3 linked regions of the Homo sapiens genome follow. The protein of the gene in region 3 interacts with the protein of the main gene of each other region in a biochemical or structural test. Each region holds a gene or a part of one and is shown on either strand. Other genes may lie near its edges.

The links.
Region 1: the proteins of MATN1 (region 3) and ITGA1 form a complex in vitro, tested with the Homo sapiens proteins (one study listed by BioGRID).
Region 2: the proteins of MATN1 (region 3) and COL9A1 interact in a biophysical measurement, tested with the Homo sapiens proteins (one study listed by IntAct).

Annotation. Positions count from the first base shown.
Region 1 is NC_000005.10:52,916,810-52,923,940, reverse strand, and holds part of ITGA1 (integrin alpha-1 precursor), read right to left. Parts: intron 5,210-7,131; coding exon 5,043-5,209; intron 3,610-5,042; coding exon 3,473-3,609; intron 1,165-3,472; coding exon 1,054-1,164; intron 1-1,053. UniProt on the Homo sapiens protein: Integrin alpha-1/beta-1 is a receptor for laminin and collagen. It recognizes the proline-hydroxylated sequence G-F-P-G-E-R in collagen. Involved in anchorage-dependent, negative regulation of EGF-stimulated cell growth.
Region 2 is NC_000006.12:70,216,020-70,223,150, forward strand, and holds the end of COL9A1 (collagen alpha-1(IX) chain isoform 1 precursor), read right to left. Parts: intron 1,063-7,131; coding exon 878-1,062; 3' UTR 107-877; downstream 1-106. UniProt on the Homo sapiens protein: Structural component of hyaline cartilage and vitreous of the eye.
Region 3 is NC_000001.11:30,710,743-30,713,682, forward strand, and holds the end of MATN1 (matrilin-1 precursor), read right to left. Parts: intron 2,890-2,940; coding exon 2,840-2,889; 3' UTR 535-2,839; downstream 1-534. UniProt on the Homo sapiens protein: A major component of the extracellular matrix of non-articular cartilage. Binds to type 2 collagens and forms long concatenated protein networks as part of the extracellular matrix.

The sequences.
Region 1 (7,131 bases), on a different chromosome or scaffold from region 3:
AGCACACATTTGGCTCTACTCCATTTGACAAGTTTTACAAGGTGGGCTCCATGAAGAAGGACAGAGATGGATCAGCACTGCTGATGACCTAGGTGGTTACTGGTGGTCTAAGTCCATGCTTCAGCGTGAGGACACCCTTTATACCTAAACCATACACTGCAATCCAGTGCTTATTAGAATAATGGGGGAGATTTCTTTCCATTGGTCCTAAATTCAAATGAGGTAAAAATGAGTGTCATTTATTAGTTTTCTTAAACTCCAACAATAGGAAATTAGAAGGATTGGAAAAAGTCTAGAAGAGCCTAATTCTTTTTTAAAACATTTTAAATTGATTTAGGGTTATGTGTGCATGGGTTTCAAGCTTTTTCCTAATGTTACCAGGGCAAACCTGGAGATATGGCTGAGAAAGTTTACTATTTTCTTGAAGAGTAGATAACTGAGAAAGTTCATTATTTTGTTAAACAGTAGATAGCTGAGAAAGTGCATTATTTTTTCTTAAACAGTTTTTTTTTTTCTAGTCTATTTATCTGTAGGTAAGCTTGCTGAAAAACAACTATAGACGGCCTGGGAGCTTCAGGACCCTTTGCCAATTACCAGAGGAAGATAAAGCCATTGAGAAAACGGAGCAAACAAGAACCAGCAACCCCTTGTTACCTTTAGATCATTAACATGTCATTATAATGCTAAAGTCCCTGCCATAGAAGAAAATGGCCACCATTTCTTGAACATATGTTGTATAAGGAAGCATGTTTATGAGCTGTACTTGTACATCTGGAGTTCCTCTCTGGACATGCTTACATATACCTCCCTGCCCCACATCTAACTCCTTAAAATTCCCCAGGTTTTCACAGCTTGAAGAGAAGGTCTTTAGAGCAAGAGCTCCCTCTTTCTCCATTCCTGACCAGGAATAAAATCTGCTTGCCTTTTTTTTCTTTCTTCCAGTTAGTTGTTCGTTCTTTGTGATCAATGCAGAGTAGTGAAAAAACACAGTTTACTAGTGACATTAAAATGTTCACAAGTTGGTATTTTGTATTTTAAAGAAATCTGACTTACATATTCATGTACTGAGTTTGGTAGAGAATCATCAAGAACAGGCCCATTTTCTGGATCGGTAAGATTAAAGTCCAACGTTATTCTCACAGAGTCCTGAAAGTCATGCTTGTCCTAGAGGGTGAAACATAAAATATATCACTGGTATCATATTTACCGGGTGTTCTGATCTTGTTATGTCTCCTTCTTCTGTTCCCAAGGGTCAGGCTTACTGCAGCATTCTTGTGCATCTAATCTGACATATGATCTCATCAGGCTTTTGCTTCCCTGGAGAGGGATTGGCATTCTGACAAGGGGCATAGGGGAATGTGGAGGTTTCAGAGTATGACCTGTTGACTCACTTCCAGTTCCTCAGAGGGCCCTGCTGGAGTGATGGCAACATCACACTTGGCTGTGTCAACATAGGAGCTACCTGCATCACAATATAGTTTTTCTTGAGACCTCAAGCCAAAGATCATTATGTAACACTTCCGGGAACATTTCCCAACTTCAGAAGGGCAAACTTTCTATAAAATGAGTTACATTTCATTAATATAATATATACCTACAGCTATAAGTTTTTGTTTGTTTGTTTGTTTGTTTGTTTGTTTGAGACAGAGTCTCTCTCTGTCACCCAGGCTGGAGTACAGCGGCACGATCTCGGCTCACTGCAACCTCCACTTCCCAGGTTCAAGTGATTCTCCTGCCTCAGCCTCCCGACTAGCTGGGATTACAGGCATGTGCCACCACACCCAGCTAATTTTTGTGTTTTTAGTAGAGACGGGGTTTCACCACGTTGGCCAGGCTGGTCTCGAACTCCTGACCTCAGGTGATCCACTCACCTCAGCCTCCCAAAGTGCTGGGATTACAGGCGTGAGCCACCATGCCTGGCCAAGAATTTTATAATGTAAAATTATTTGGAAAGGATGTGAATATGATTAATACTGTTAACATGCCACCAATAACAATAATCATTTATAGTATTCAAAATTATGAGCTTTATATACATTATTGCAAATTATTTCAACAGTCCTCTAAGATGAGTAACTATTATTGTCCTTATTTTACAGATGAAAGATTGACCCTCTAAGAGACCAAACGACGTTGCCAAAGTCTCTCAGAATGTGGAATATTTGGGATACAAATTCTACACTGGCTGACTCCAGAACAAATTTCAAAGTGCTTCTTTCAAAATCCAAAACAATTTTCGAAATTTTGAAAATATTTCAGTCCTTTAAACACCAGTACCTGGACATAACTTAGACACTGAATTTGTGGACAAACATAGACTGAGATGATTTTTAGCAGGTTGGAGACAATGCCATATCTGGTTTCATACCCATTCAAATTTTATCCACATTCTAATTCCTAAGTGTTCAGTTCTGATTAACTAAATAGGAGGGGCAACTCCAGTGTTATTTTACCAAATAATAGATTGATCTTGGTCCTGACAGAATAAGCTTCATGATAAGTATCATGAAGCATATCAACATGAAAATCACTGAGGAAGAACAAATGTGGCACAAAAGGGTGCACATTTTCTGTCACTCCCCTGCCCCTGAACTACAATTTTCAAAATACAGACTATGAATATATCAATAATACAGAAATAAGTCAGAAGTAGGAAAATTGGCCTGGTTCCTTTAAAGCTCCAAGTTTACCGTCAAGTCTCTAAGTCTTAATGTCAGTTACTAAAATCAGTTTCCTCATTACCTTCATGCTGCTTCTTGTTTTTATCACTCTCATGTACATTTTAAGAAAATGTTTAGGAAACTCCTGCCCTCTGTTGGGAACATTCCCCATATACACAGTGTCCCAACAAAATACATTTTAAATGATTCACACTGGCTTACCAGCCATCTCTAAACATTAATAGTTTGATTTCCAAAACTCCCTCATCCACTAAAATTAAAAAAAAAAAAAACTGAAGTAGCACAAAGCCTACAGATGATAGAAAATACCAGATAATTTTCCCCTTCGCTCTAAAATCAAACGGCGAGATATGTAGTTACATGGATCCCAGAAAGCATACAGCCCAGCAGTCTGCCCCCAGAGCAGTTAATCACTTACCAACCACAACTGACAGACAAGGCCCACAGAAATTAAATGTTTTCAAGTTGAAGGAATAAATGAATGAGTGAAAGAAATGAAGACATGAATAAGGTTTCTTGTCAACTAGAACACTGTGTCTTTTCCTGCCGTTCCATAATATATGGATGTCTGATAATGCAGACAGGGAAGACTAGAGATAGTTTTACAAATATTTGGAAATGAGAAAATTAGACCTGCGATTTTATGATAAAAATGAACAAACAAGATTTCCTTTATGACATCATAAGTGCATTTTGAAATAAAACAGTAAGAATTTGATTGACTTGAAATAAGACATCTCTACTGTATTCTTGATTTGGAATAAGGCAGCAACGATATATGATTTACTTGCCAACATGTAGAAGGAGTGCTTAGTGCATTCTGATTTTCGAACTGTGATGTTCCTTTGAACCTTTCTCTCTTGAGTTCCAGAGAAAAAACTTCGTGATATTTGTCTTAGTGAATCTAGGGTGACACGGTACTGCAAATCTACAAAAATTTTAAAAAATAATTGATGGAAATGTTTATTTGAAGTGATTCTCATATTGTACAGATTATTAAATTAGCATTATAGAAAAATCTCTTTGGCAATCAATCAAAAAAGATTCTATTGTTCAGCATATCCACACTGTTATAACAATGATATTAGCAGTCATGAAGATAACCTTGAGGAACTCTATAGAACTGGTCTCTGAGTTCACTGTGCTTTCAGTGTCTAATTACATTTATTGTTTATAATTCTTATACACACATGCACACCTGCCTATCATCTAATTGCCAGGCCACCACTGTATTTATTATATTTTCACTTAAAACATTCTTTTTAAGTTTAGAAATGTTGGAACCCTGCTTAGAATATTGATTATGTTATATTTCAATAGGGACAAAAATATACTTTAGTTATTTATTTACAAATATATACATTTTAATCTATTTATATATAAAATGACATTATCTCAGCTTATGGTCAAACCACTATTAAGGTTCAATAAAATAAGCATACCACAATAAAGAAAATAAATGAAATCTTACACTGTATATGAAGGCTACAATATTCCTTATTTGATCACTTAATTACTTTGCAAAAATTAAATAAGACTGAAATAAAGTTACATATAAAACTCAAAATCATTATTTTATGTTCTTATACCTCATTGATCTTTCTAGTCAGGAGGCTATTTCAGAGCATATACATGCACATATGGAACAAATCAAGAAAAACAGATTTTAAGGATTAATGGCTTTTCTCATTCTGCTTGTATTTGGTTACAGAGTAAATTTCTCTTCTTTAGCCAATGGCCTTTATAGCTTTGATTCGAGCATATTTCAACATCATTAAAAAGCTGCCTTAGAAAGTGGAGAACGGAGGGAGGAAGAGGAAGCACAGGCTGACCTGATGCACCTGAGAACACACACACAGAACAAGTCTGACTCTCGGAAACTAGGGTCACCTCAATGGAACAAAGGATCTCGGAAATGTGGGAATGGTAAAGTATTAGGGTTCTCTGCAATATCAGTCTTTCCCAAGAGGGGGCAAGAGAAGGGAGAGAAGAGTCATGGTAGAAACCTACAGGAAGGAAAACTGGGCCCATTTGTAGCTCAATTTCTAAACTCTACCTCTGAATCGGTATTTTTTTCTTAAGCGTCTCATTGTACATAGCAAGTAGGAGAGCCAGACAGAAACTATGGAGTGTTGAGGGCACTGCATACAAACATGTAATTTCTGCTCCAGAATTGACTGGGTTCCATAACCTATTCCTTTTGCAACAGAATTTTTTTTCAAGGTTCTGCATCTTCACTGGGGCAAATATGACGTGCAGCTCACCATGTGGGGAAAATACAATATCCTACTGGACTTCATCATGCTAGAGCAAATATATTGTCCTCTACCCAAAAGTACTTGCTATAATTATTTTGCTTACCAGCTTCATAAATCGTGTCTTCTTTAGACTTTAATTTCACATCAAAACACACTGTAGCATTTATGCATACTGTTTCCTTTCCCTCCATATGGCAGTTTTTCTTTTGAATATTCACTTTATTTGGCTCAAAATTCATGGTCACTTTAACTACGGCCACATCTCGGGACCTACAAACAAAAACAATGGGATTACTCACACATTTTTACATTTAATGAATGTCATCAACTTGGGAGTGCAAAGTGAGTGCATGGAAGAGGGTTCTGCTTCATGTATAATACAGCGCTCAGGACTCCATTTCTTTAATTAATCATTGTTACAGAAGAGATTATATCTGATGTTCTAAGACATGTAGGTTATATTTGGAAACCATTTGGGGCTTTTGGTTCAAACACCAAAGATCTAGTTTTTCCTGTGATGGAAAAGAGATGGAATCAAGTGTCCAGGTGAAACCCCAGAATCAACTGTATTTTGGGGATTTACGAGTTTGTTCCAAATTTGAAAGAAGTCTAAAGGTCCCTGAACAGCCCGTAGACCCCTGCTATCTCTTGTCTGGACTGTAATATTGTCTGTCCTTGTGAGTTCAGCTCTTCCTCTATTTCTAGGAAGGAAAAGCAAAATAACATTTGAGGCATTGTGCTAGACATGGATGCTATTTCATTTAATTCTTAAGGTTAATTATAAGCAACATCATTTTTTTGTTTTACGTTTGATAACTGGGGCTCTGAAAAGTTAAATATTTTATGCCAGGTCAAAAGCTATTAAGAGGAAAAACCTGGGATTTTAAACTCAGTCGTTTTAACTCGAAAGCCCAGTAATGTCTACTAATCCAAAATGAGATCAGAGTAAGATCTCAGACATGGAGAATATATGGATACTGAGGTCATTGTCTTAGATCCAAGCCGGAACAATTACTGCACATTTTTACCTGGTTTCTGCCTTGTGGCCAGAGCTAGCCCCTTATAACTGTGTATGTTGTGAATAATGAGGTCACTACTTATGCTTTTGCATTAAAAAAAGGTGGTTTTCTTTTTTCTGTTAAAACAATGGACTCATAGAAAATATAAACATCATAGAAATGCATAAAGAAAACACAAATAACTTGTTATACTACCACTCAGCAATAATCATCATTAACATTTAGTACACTCAGTGGTTTTTTCTTTACAGAAGAAAACATGCATACACGTACACACATGCATACATACATATATACAAAAGCACATCTTCATATGTATGCCTACAAATTTTTAAAACATTATATTACAATGAACAGCTTTCCAATATTTACATTTTTCTGAGAACATTATTTTTAATGGGATTTATTATTTTTAATGGAAGCAGACTATACCAGCATATGCACATACCATAATCTATGCATTCAATCCCATCTCATTGGATATTTAGCTTAATTTAAAAAAAAGGTTTCTGAGTATAGTGGTAAATTTAACATTATTAAAAGATGGTATTACATACAGTGCTGTGATGACACCTTTAATTGTACTTCTAGATTGTATCTTTACATTTTTAGGAAGTTAAATCCTTGGTAAAAAGTAGGAACATTGGAATGCTTTTAAACACTTATTGATAAAGACCTTCGAATGAGTTTTAGCCAGTTTACCCTTTCATCAGCAATGAATGAACATGCCTAGTTTCCTGCTTAGTAATATGGATTCTCCAGGCATGAAGCTGCCTCGACCATTGTCCACCCCACACATCCTCTCTGCCCCAGCCAGATCTTTCTTGGGAGTCAGTCCAGGTCTCATGACAAGACTCTCACTATTTGCTTCCAAACGTTTTTCCTATCATCTGTCACTTGTATCCACTCTCACTTCTTGTTAGGCATTGTGAATCTTAGTCTTCGTGTCCCAGTATATCGGTTTGGTCCATTCTGCTGTCAGTGGAGCCTGGACTATGATAGGGAAATGACTATCATTTTGGGCCATCAATGCCTTGATTTGGGGCAGGAGAGGCCATAAATAAGTTTGCAAAGCTTTGCAAGAAAGCCTTGAAACAAAACTGGAGCATAAAAACCCTGAAAACATATTTTTAATATGAGAATTAATACAATAAATATTTGTGAGCTAAAGGG
Region 2 (7,131 bases), on a different chromosome or scaffold from region 3:
ACATACACCTATAGAACCAGTAGTTAAGTAATGTTTAATGTATCTAAATAAGCTCAGTAACTTCTTTTCATTGAACATGATTATTTATAAGAAAACATGCAAGAGATTAAGAAACCATATTTATTTCTTCTTTGGTACAACCAGAGATGTTACCTCAAACCTTTAAAATAAATAATCTCATCAATAAAATTTATGAATGCCAGAGTATTAAAATTATTTCTTTGCTTTCACATAGAAGCGCTCAAAATATTAACAGGTTTGGGGTAAAGTACATACAGTTCAACAAAAGTTCAAGGTGAAGAAGGAAACCAATACATGACGTAAAGAAATCATTTCGGGAGATGTAGCCCTTTCTTATCACTCCAGAGACAGCACATCGATGAGATTTTAAGCACCAATTCCATTGAATGTAGTGGGGTTTCTTCATAACTAGTCTAGTAATCCTCTATATAACTGAAACAATAATCTGAGAACAACTTCTAAATGAAAATAACTACTGCAACTGAGGTAAACCAAACAGTTGTTTTTGTTTATTGGCACAGTGGCCCACGATAAGACACATAGGTATAGCACACTAAAGCTCAAGATCCTGGGAACAGGAGTATAAATTTATTCAAGGGAGGTGTTTGGTTTTCTTTTTTTTTTTTTAACTGATGACTCTGCTGTCTTCCCTCCAAGGGAAAGGAAAGAGAACTTACTGAATAGCACCGTTCTTCTATATGTGATTGTCAAGTAGGACTTCTGTAATCATACTGAAGGTAATACATTGTAATCATGCTGAAGGTAATCATCTTTGCCCCAGCTTTGGATGGTGTTTCTCACCCAGGCTCCTTCACCAGGCGTGGTTCATGCAGACAGCCATGCAGCAGTAAGCCTTTCAAGGGTCAGGCCCTTTGTTAAATGCTCGCTGACCAGCCTGCATGGTGCAGGAGGCTGGCTCACAGAAACCGGGAAGCCCAGGAGGTCCCGGGGGTCCAGGCACTCCAGGAATTCCTGCCACCCCTGGGGGGCCTCGCTCACCGTCTCGGCCATTTCTGCCATAGCTGGCAGGGCCTGGGTCACCTGAAACACACAGAAGATTGCACATGTGAACAGGAGAATCCTCATTGATGCAAACTGGCAGAGGGCATGGCTCAGCAGCGCTCAGATAAGGGGTTTAACAAACGCTTTTGGAAGCGATGGATGATGACTGGTGATGATTGGTGATGATGATGATGATGATGATAATAAGATCCCTTCCTTGGACTTGGGTTTTCATGGAAATTAAAAGCAGAAAGAGACCTCAGTGTCTCTAACCCCCATTTCCATCAGTAGAGCTGCACCGTGCACCATGGTAGCCTCCAGCCACAGGTGCCTATTGAGAGCTGAAATGTGATGAGGCCAAATGGAGATGAACTAAGGATCAAACACACCTGGATTTTAAAGACTTGATATGAAAAAATGTAAAATAGTTCATTAATAATTTTTGTGTCTATTACATGATGAAATGATCTTTTGCACACAGTGGGTTAAGTAAACTATATTATTAAAATTAATGTCACTTGATTATTTTTACCTTTTTCATGTGGCTACTTGATTTAAAATCATACATGCAACTCACATTTGTGGCTCACATTATATTTCTTTTGAATGCAAGTAGCAGTATTCCTTACTTCTAAGAGTTGAGCAACATCCGGGCAGGGAGAAGTATAGTTTAGCGGTTAAAAACACAGGTTTTGGAGACAAATAGCTTTACATTCTAGCCCTATCATTTATGAAAAATGTGACATTAGCAAGTCACTAATCTCTCAGTTTCTTCATCTACAAGATGGGATAATGTCTTCCTAATAATTAAATTCAGGCCAGGTGCAGTGGCTCATGCCTGTAATCCCAGCACTTTGGGAAGCCAAGGTGGGCAGATCACCTGAGGTCAGGAGTTTGAGATCAGCCTGGCCAAAATGGTGAAACCTCATTTCTACTAAAAATACAAAAAAATTAGCCAGGTATGGTGGTGTATGCCTGTAGTCCTAGCTACTCAGGAGGCTGAGGCAGGAGAATTACTTGCACCCGGGAGGCAGAGGTTGCAGTGAGCCGAGATCGCGCCACTGCACTCCAGCCTGGGCGATAGAACAAGACTTCGTCTTAAAAATAATAATAATAATAATTCTACAATTGGAAGCACCTGATAAATAGGGGCTATTATTACAATTATTAAGATATTATTGATTAATGTCTTTTAGAAGGCTGTGCCATGTGCCCTACAAATTTTCATATTTTTCTCATGAAGGGCTGACCCCAACATGAACTTTGCAATAGCAGGTTCTCTGGGGGACATTTCTTGCTTGTCTTCCTTTTGTCGTGTTTAAGGGTTGTATGTTGCCCTCAATGGGGCACACTCTCTGAGGCACAGCACCCCATAACAAAGAGGAATTTCTGCTGAATGTTTACCCCAGTGCACTAGCAGCACTTTCACACAATTATTGCAAAAGTGGTGATGAGAAGTCAGTGTAAAACAAATTGTGTATGCCAAAATAATATAGGGATCCTCATTCCATCTCAGCCATCTTAACCTGGTCTTTCAGCCAAAAAGCCGGAAGCCAAATCTACATGTTCAACTACATATTTGCTTATATTTGGTTACTCTCCTTCTTTCTCTGTGGTTTTTACTTTTCTTTTTCTATTTCAGTTGTCTTTTTATATGTCTTTTGTTGGTCTTACTGTAGTAATATGGTCTTATTCATATATATCTCACATATTTTTAGAAGGAAGGTAGGTTAGAGATCCTGCTTTACATAACATCTCATTCTTCCTCTGGTGCATACACTTCGATCCACACAAAGCAATGTCATAGGGCAATATATTAATAAGTTTTAAGGGAGAATAATTATCTTTGAATTTATCCATCTCAAAGCTATAGATAAGCAGAGATATAAGTAATTTTCCCTAATTTATCCCATATACTTTCATTCAACTATACCTAGTAAGTATGAAGCAGATCATTATGTGTTTTCTTTTAATGATGAGGTCCCTGAGAAAGCTTCTCCCTAATCCACAGCATCTATAGATAAAGCTGTAGCAGAACTATGCCCTTAGCAGCACCTGTTAAGATCCTTAACACCAGATGCAGTTAAAGGTGAAGTTGATTTTTTTAAGGTTTAAAAGATGAGCCAGATCTAAATCCGATTTTCATGCACCTTATCACTAGGAATGTTCCCACTGAGACATACCAGGTGTGCCTTAAAATCAAATCAAGTTTAGGAGAAGGAAATGCCCAAAGAAGAGGTAGAAAACCAAATGAGCACAGGGGCTGGGATGGTCATTGAGATCAGGGGTGGGCAAACTTCAGCTCATGAGCTAAATCTTGTTTTTGTAGTTTTATTAGAACACGACCATGGTCATTTGTTTACATATTGTCTGTGGCTGCTTTGGCGTACCAGGGCAGAGTTAAATAGCTGCAATATGGTGCCCATAGCCAAATAATCTGATCCTTCACAAATAAAGTTTGCTGATCCCTGATGTTATAAAGAAACAAGCCTGGATTAAGAAATTCCCCCACTGTTTTTACCAGATGAAAACGTAAAGTACAAATGCAATGAAATTTGGCCACTAATATTCCACGTAAGTGTTGGGGAGACCAAAGGGAGGAGTGAGGCCTGTGGTGAGCTGGAAAGTGGATGCGGGCAGCAGCTCTTCTCCAGCTAACAGCTGTCATCGGGGAATACAGGCCAGTGTTGCCAGAACTTCTGATAATTTTCAAGAGAGGCCAGGAAGCTGAGTCTTTAAATAAATATCTCCCAATGTTTAAATGTTAGCAACTAATTCAAATTTTTTTCAACATTTGTAGAGCCAGCCAAAAACCTTAAGTTTTAAGTAATTTATTCTCTAATACACTAACAATATTAAAAAGCAGAAGGATAGCTTTTTAGATTTTCACATTTGGTTCCCCATCAACACACTTCAGGAGAAGTTTTTCTTTTTCTTTTTTACCTTGCTGAGTTTATTCCAAATTGCTGCTTATCCTCTGAAGGAAGAGTCGATGAAGCCATCCTGTCTACCCTTGATTTATTTTATGAAGCATGCATCTCATCCAGTTCTGCCTTTGGCAAATGCAGCAATTTACCCTTTGGAGCTTTTGATGATGTCATCATCATCATCATCATCATCATCATCACCACAAATGCTTAATGAGAATGCTTTCTCTTTTCCATGGGCATACACTATGCTCATTATTGAGCCCATTTTTCTCATGCATAAACTGAGAGTTAGGAAGGTCAAATAATTGTCCATAGTCATATAGCCAGAAATGAGGACCCTTAACCACTGCACTAACTGTATTTTCCTACCTATTGATTTTTTTAACTCTGTGGAAGGGTGTGGAGGGGTGTGGCAGGGTGTGTGTGTGTGTGTGTGTGTGTGTGTGGTCATTTTTTTTAATTCCTTGGGCCTGAGTTGACCAGGAAGTAGACAGAGGTACAAAAACAAAGCACAGTATTGACTTTTGCAGAGCTCTAATGATCATAAGAAACTAAGATATTTCTCTGAGGTTTTGCCCTGTAGAAATACCAGAGAAAAAAAAACAGCCTTAACATAGCAGATTGTCAGGCTCTGGAAAGCCCTGACCCAGGGCCTTTGCTCTCATGTATGTTCTAAACTATGTGGGAGCCTCAGTTGGGTGACACTATGTCCACAGTCCACATCACTCAAAAAGTGAAGCTGACTCATAATAACGGTTCACAAAATGGGCATAAATGGTTAGCCCAGCAGCTACATTCATGAATATCTATCAACTGCTTTGTAACTCTTCAGAAAGAGAAAACATGCATCTAAAGTGTTATTCTGCTCTGCCTGCCTCATGTGTGTATTACTTACACTAACTGCCTAATGATTACATGGTTTTCTGAAATGTCAAGGACCTATAAATATGTTGAATATTCCCAATACAAAGAAATGATAAATGTTTGAGATGATGGATATACTAATTACCCTAATCTGGTCATTATGTAATATTTCTATTGAAACATTACTACATATCCCATAAATATGTATAACTATTATATGTCAATTAAAATAAAATAAAATATTTAAAATTATTGCTAAACGTTTTTTTTTTAAACAAATGAATAGCTATGTCATTCTCTATAAAACCACTAGAGGGTAGTCATGTTACACTGATGGAAGCCCATCTCGGCTGGATCATTCTGGAGGCAGCCCCTCACCTAATACATGCTGTGGCGTAAAAGGGACTGTGTATACAGTCAAAACAAAAAAAGTGAATAATTTTCACATTAAATAGGGTATTTCATAATTAATCCACTGGTTATGTAGACTTTTTGTATGTACCAGGAGTTTCTTATATTTCTTGAGCTTAATGTTGTGGTATTTGACAAAGCAGTATATGTTTAAGGAATTATAAACTGGTTTATGTAAGGCCCAGCAACCAAATAAAACAGCTGCAGCAATGGAAATGGAAAAATTAGGTACTGAAAAACTTAGCCCAGAACTGAATGTGTGCGTGTGTATTTTTCCACTCAATAGTCTCAAGCAAAGCTCACCTTTCTGTGGACTTTGCACAAGAAAACCAAATACTCTTATAACCTAGCATAGTCCAGCACAAAGCCAGCTACAACTTCCATGTCCAAGAGGCAAAAAGCACCTTAGCTCACAAGTCACCTTCCTAGTGTTCACATTCAAATGATTTGTCATTTAATTTATGTTTTGCCCTAGTGAGTGCACAAAGAGGAAGTCAGGACTCTTTATTATTAATAAATATGTTCCTTTAAAATTCTCAGAGTGACGAGGAACTAGTCCCAATGGGCAAGTTTGGTGGCAGCAGAGAGAGTCTTTGAGACAACCGACCAAGCAATAACACTAGCTGACCTGTGGCACAAAACTGAAGGCGGGGGAGACTAAAGTTCCAGGGATTGCTAATGTGATCCACGTAGCTCTGCAAGAGAGGCAGAGAAAGAAGCGAGACACTCAGCAATTATGGGACATGCTCAATTCACATGTCTAGGTTGCAAAGAAAAACTAATCGTATGATTAGACAGCCAGCCAATCATTCTGTCCACTTTGGGAACATAGACTCAGGAAGCATGAATATCTGTCTTGTTATTACCTGACAGACTTTTGTCAGGACATGAATTTAAGAGTCTGTATTTTCTCAAATATATTATAAAAAAAGGGAGCAACAATAATAACAGTTAAATTTCACTAAATAATGTCAGAGTGTCTGTTTGCCATATGCCAGGCACTGTTCCAAGAGCTTTACATGTATTAACATGTGCATATATGCTCTAAATACAAGGTAGGCATAGTGATTCCCATTCACTGAAGAGGAAACTGAAGCACTTCAAGGTAAAAGAATAGTGCATAAGCCCTGGCAGCCTGGCTCCATGTCTGCACTTCTTAAATATTCACCCAGCCTACTCCTGGCTGTGAGAAACAAACTAGATTGTGCATGTGTACTTTTTAAACAACAAAGCACTGTAGCCAAAATGATCATCAATGTAAAGGTTATAATAATAACCTGTGTTCCATAACAAGCAATGAGCATTATGTCCCTGCAGGGCATGTAATACTTAACACTGAACAAACAGAGATACAGCATTGGAGAGGGGAGACAGGGAACTAAAACTGTCCAGAAAGAATACAGGAACTCTAACAACCGATAGAAAATGATGATATTAGTTACATCGTTAAAAATATGTTAAATGCCTTAGCACAAAGAATGATCCAACTATCTTTTTTTTTTTTATTCAGGAGGATTTGAGCCCCAAATCCAACAACAGGAACAACAAAGAAGGTTGCAGACTATGCTGTTCTGCAGTTTCTTTATTTTAGGTAAGAAAAGAATTTTTTTATCTAGACGGTTCCAGACAAATTACTGCACAGAATCCTTTTGAAGTTTCATCAGGCCTTAAAGTCCTATTAATATTATGTTTTTGAGAGATCAGAAATCACATTCCTAGTCACATTCAAGCTCTACCAAGAAATAAAAAGCAGTATAGCCTCAGTGGACAATTAACCAGTGAAAAGATGTACTGCTACCCAGTACTTCGCATTTGTGATTTGGAGTTGAAGTAGACTTTCATGGAGGGAAGGTCTGGGCATCAGGGGCGGTGCTGATTTAGAGAAGAGTAATATATTACTGCT
Region 3 (2,940 bases):
GCACATAGGGATCACCCAAAAATGGTAACTCAATAGGTGACCCAAACTTGATTCTGACCCCAAATACTCCAAGGCTGCGACGCCCCCATAAGCAGAGTGGTCCCCTCCCCTTGTCAACATACCTTGATGCCAACCAGGGTTGAGTAGCAGGGCCCCCCAACCCCCAGCCTCACAGGCGGCTCTGAAGAGGATGCAGGCCCAGCCTCAGGTATCAGGAAGTCCCTGAGCAGCTCCTGTCTTCTCCTGGATTAATTGCATTCACATCTGGAACAGATGGGGCATTGGGACTCTCCACCCCCGCCCCCTTTTTTCAAAGAGCACTGGTCCAGGAGAAAACCATGTAATTAAAAGAGGAGAAATGCAAAACAATCCCCTTAGCGGACTGTGCCATCTTCTCTCCCTTGTAAATCCATTAATGAACTGTAATTGCAAAGACAAACCCTTTATTGAAACCTGGTAACCAATGCACTACGGGGCCAAGAGACTCCCATTATAGCCCAAGGCCTGAGGAAAGAAAGAAAAGAACAATCCTAATTAGTTTAGTCCTGTTTATTTATACAAAATTCAAAAAAACAAAATTACAGGTTACAAAGTAACTTGCCATCTGTCAGTAGACCATGGCTGCCCTCGGGAGATGCTGGTTTTCATTTACAACCTTCTGTTAATCAAACCTAGAGCAGAGAGGGATGTGGGAAGTCCATGGAGAGGACGGATTTCAAGAGGACCTGGAGTAGCCGTGGGGAGAACTGCGATGAGTGAAGGGCAAGAGTTTGGGATTGAAAGATCCCAAGAAGCTGGTCCCTGCCTTCATCAGAGCCTGGTGACAAGGTCCTGCCACTACTCCACCCACCGGGCAGGGAAGAACGAGGTCCTATTCCCAGGCAGGGCTTCCACCCCATCTCTGACTCCACTCATCAGGGACATCTGTTGCTTCTGCCCGCCAGCTCCCAGGCCATGGCGTCCGCTAATGACCCTCTCCTCCTCCTTGGGGACACACTGCTGAGCCTTCTCAGTCCATATCAACATGGCTGCCTCTCCCCCTCCCCACCTGTGTGGGGAGGAGAGGGGAGTGGATAATCTCAGAAGAAAGGAAGAATGAGCAGAGTCATAACTTCTCAGGTGGCTGTGTCAAGGAGCCTCCTTGGACAGCAGAAAAACTCCTGCCCCAGGGACGGACAGAGAGAAAGGGTTTGGTGAACTGTGTAGGAGGTGGAGTCAGGTCATGGGGGCGAGGGTGGCTGTGCCCCAGTTAAGTCGCGCTTGTGTATTTGTGCTGTTGTACTGATGTAGCTCTTGGGTACCGTTCGTGTTGTTATTCTGCCTCTTTGAACTGCCTCCGAGGAAGATCTTTCGGTGTGGTCTGAGCTTCTTGTAAAAGCCTTTTAGACATGCTCTCAAGTGTGAATCTAGTAGTAACACTAAAAATGCTCCATTAAACAAGAATAGGTTCAGAAAATCACCAAAGCTCCCCCTCTGAGAGGACAGAGATGGAGATTCCGGAGCAGCACTGGTCCAACAGGGGCCTGGGGGAGGTGGCCGAGATCTCAGGGTGTGACCTGCAGACCCCACATAGGGCTGGAGGAAGGGAACATGGGGCCAGGAGTCTTTCTCTTGTGCAGTCTCTGAGGTGGGGCTGCTGCCATCTGCGTTGGGGACTTTGGGTTGGGGGTGATGCCGCCTGTGCACAGGAAACAAACAGAACTCCAACAGGGCATGTTGGGGGCGGGAGGGGAGAGGCACCTAGGGCAGCCCAGGCCCAGGCTGGAGCCCTTCCCATCATCTCACACACACACTCACCCCGTGGGCTCCCAGGTATCAAGAGGAGGCACAAACCCCTGGTACGACCTAAACCCACTCTCTTTTCCTCTGGCTGGTCCCTCTGGCTGGTGGGGGTGACATGAGCACCCTGCTCAACTGTATGTCTCTTAGGGCAGGAACTACGTCTGTCTCATACAGCACCATCCCCCCCCACCGCCATTGCCCTGTAAGTACATGATACCTGAACGAATGAGTGAACGAATGAATGAATGAACAAATGAGTCCTATCTGGTGTCATTGCCCTTTTTCTCTGAAGCCTTTTTCTTTTGATGTTCTTCAGTCCTAGATTCAAGTCCTGTCTCTCAGCGACCCACTGCTGAGCAAGTCATTTCATCATTTAGACTCTCAGCTTTCCCATTTGTAATGGGGATAATTTGAGTCTTTTCTGGGTAAGGTTACTGGAAGTGAAATGAGGTCAACTAAATGAATATGTAACTGAAAAGGCAGGACAAACACCAGCTGGTTTTGGTGTGGTCACTGTCATCACTGTCACCACCACTGTTACCATCCTTCCAACCATCCCCTCCCACCACATCTTCATCCATCCTTTTCCCTGGTCCCCAAATAACCACACTGCCTCTAGCCCCATTCACTGCTTACGTTAAATCACATTTAATTGTTTCTCACCGGAGAATAGAGAAATCAGTAAAGAAATTCACAGCACTCAGAGTCAAGAAAGGGTTAACTAAAAAAGATGGGAATATATTAAGCTTTTGATTATAAAAATGCAAACGCAGTCCCTCTCACACTCACCCCTGCATTATCACTCTCACACTCACATTCTGGCAAGACTCATGCCCACCCTCAGGCGCACGTGCACACACACACACACACACACACATGCACACATACACACACGCACACATACACACACGAGCTCCCAAACGCCATTACACGCTCTCAATAGGCACACCCAGACACACCCCCTCCCACCCCCGGGCTGGCTTCCCTCACTAAAATGGTAAAGCTACGGCGGACACGTGCAGGACGCTTGGAGAGGCCACAGTGGTGACAGGCAGCCTTAGACAACTGTGTTCTCCAGGATGGCCAGCCGCTTACTCACAGCTTCCAGTGGACTCAGAGTTAAGGAGAGGTGCAGGTTGGCCAGAGCAGGGCAGGGAT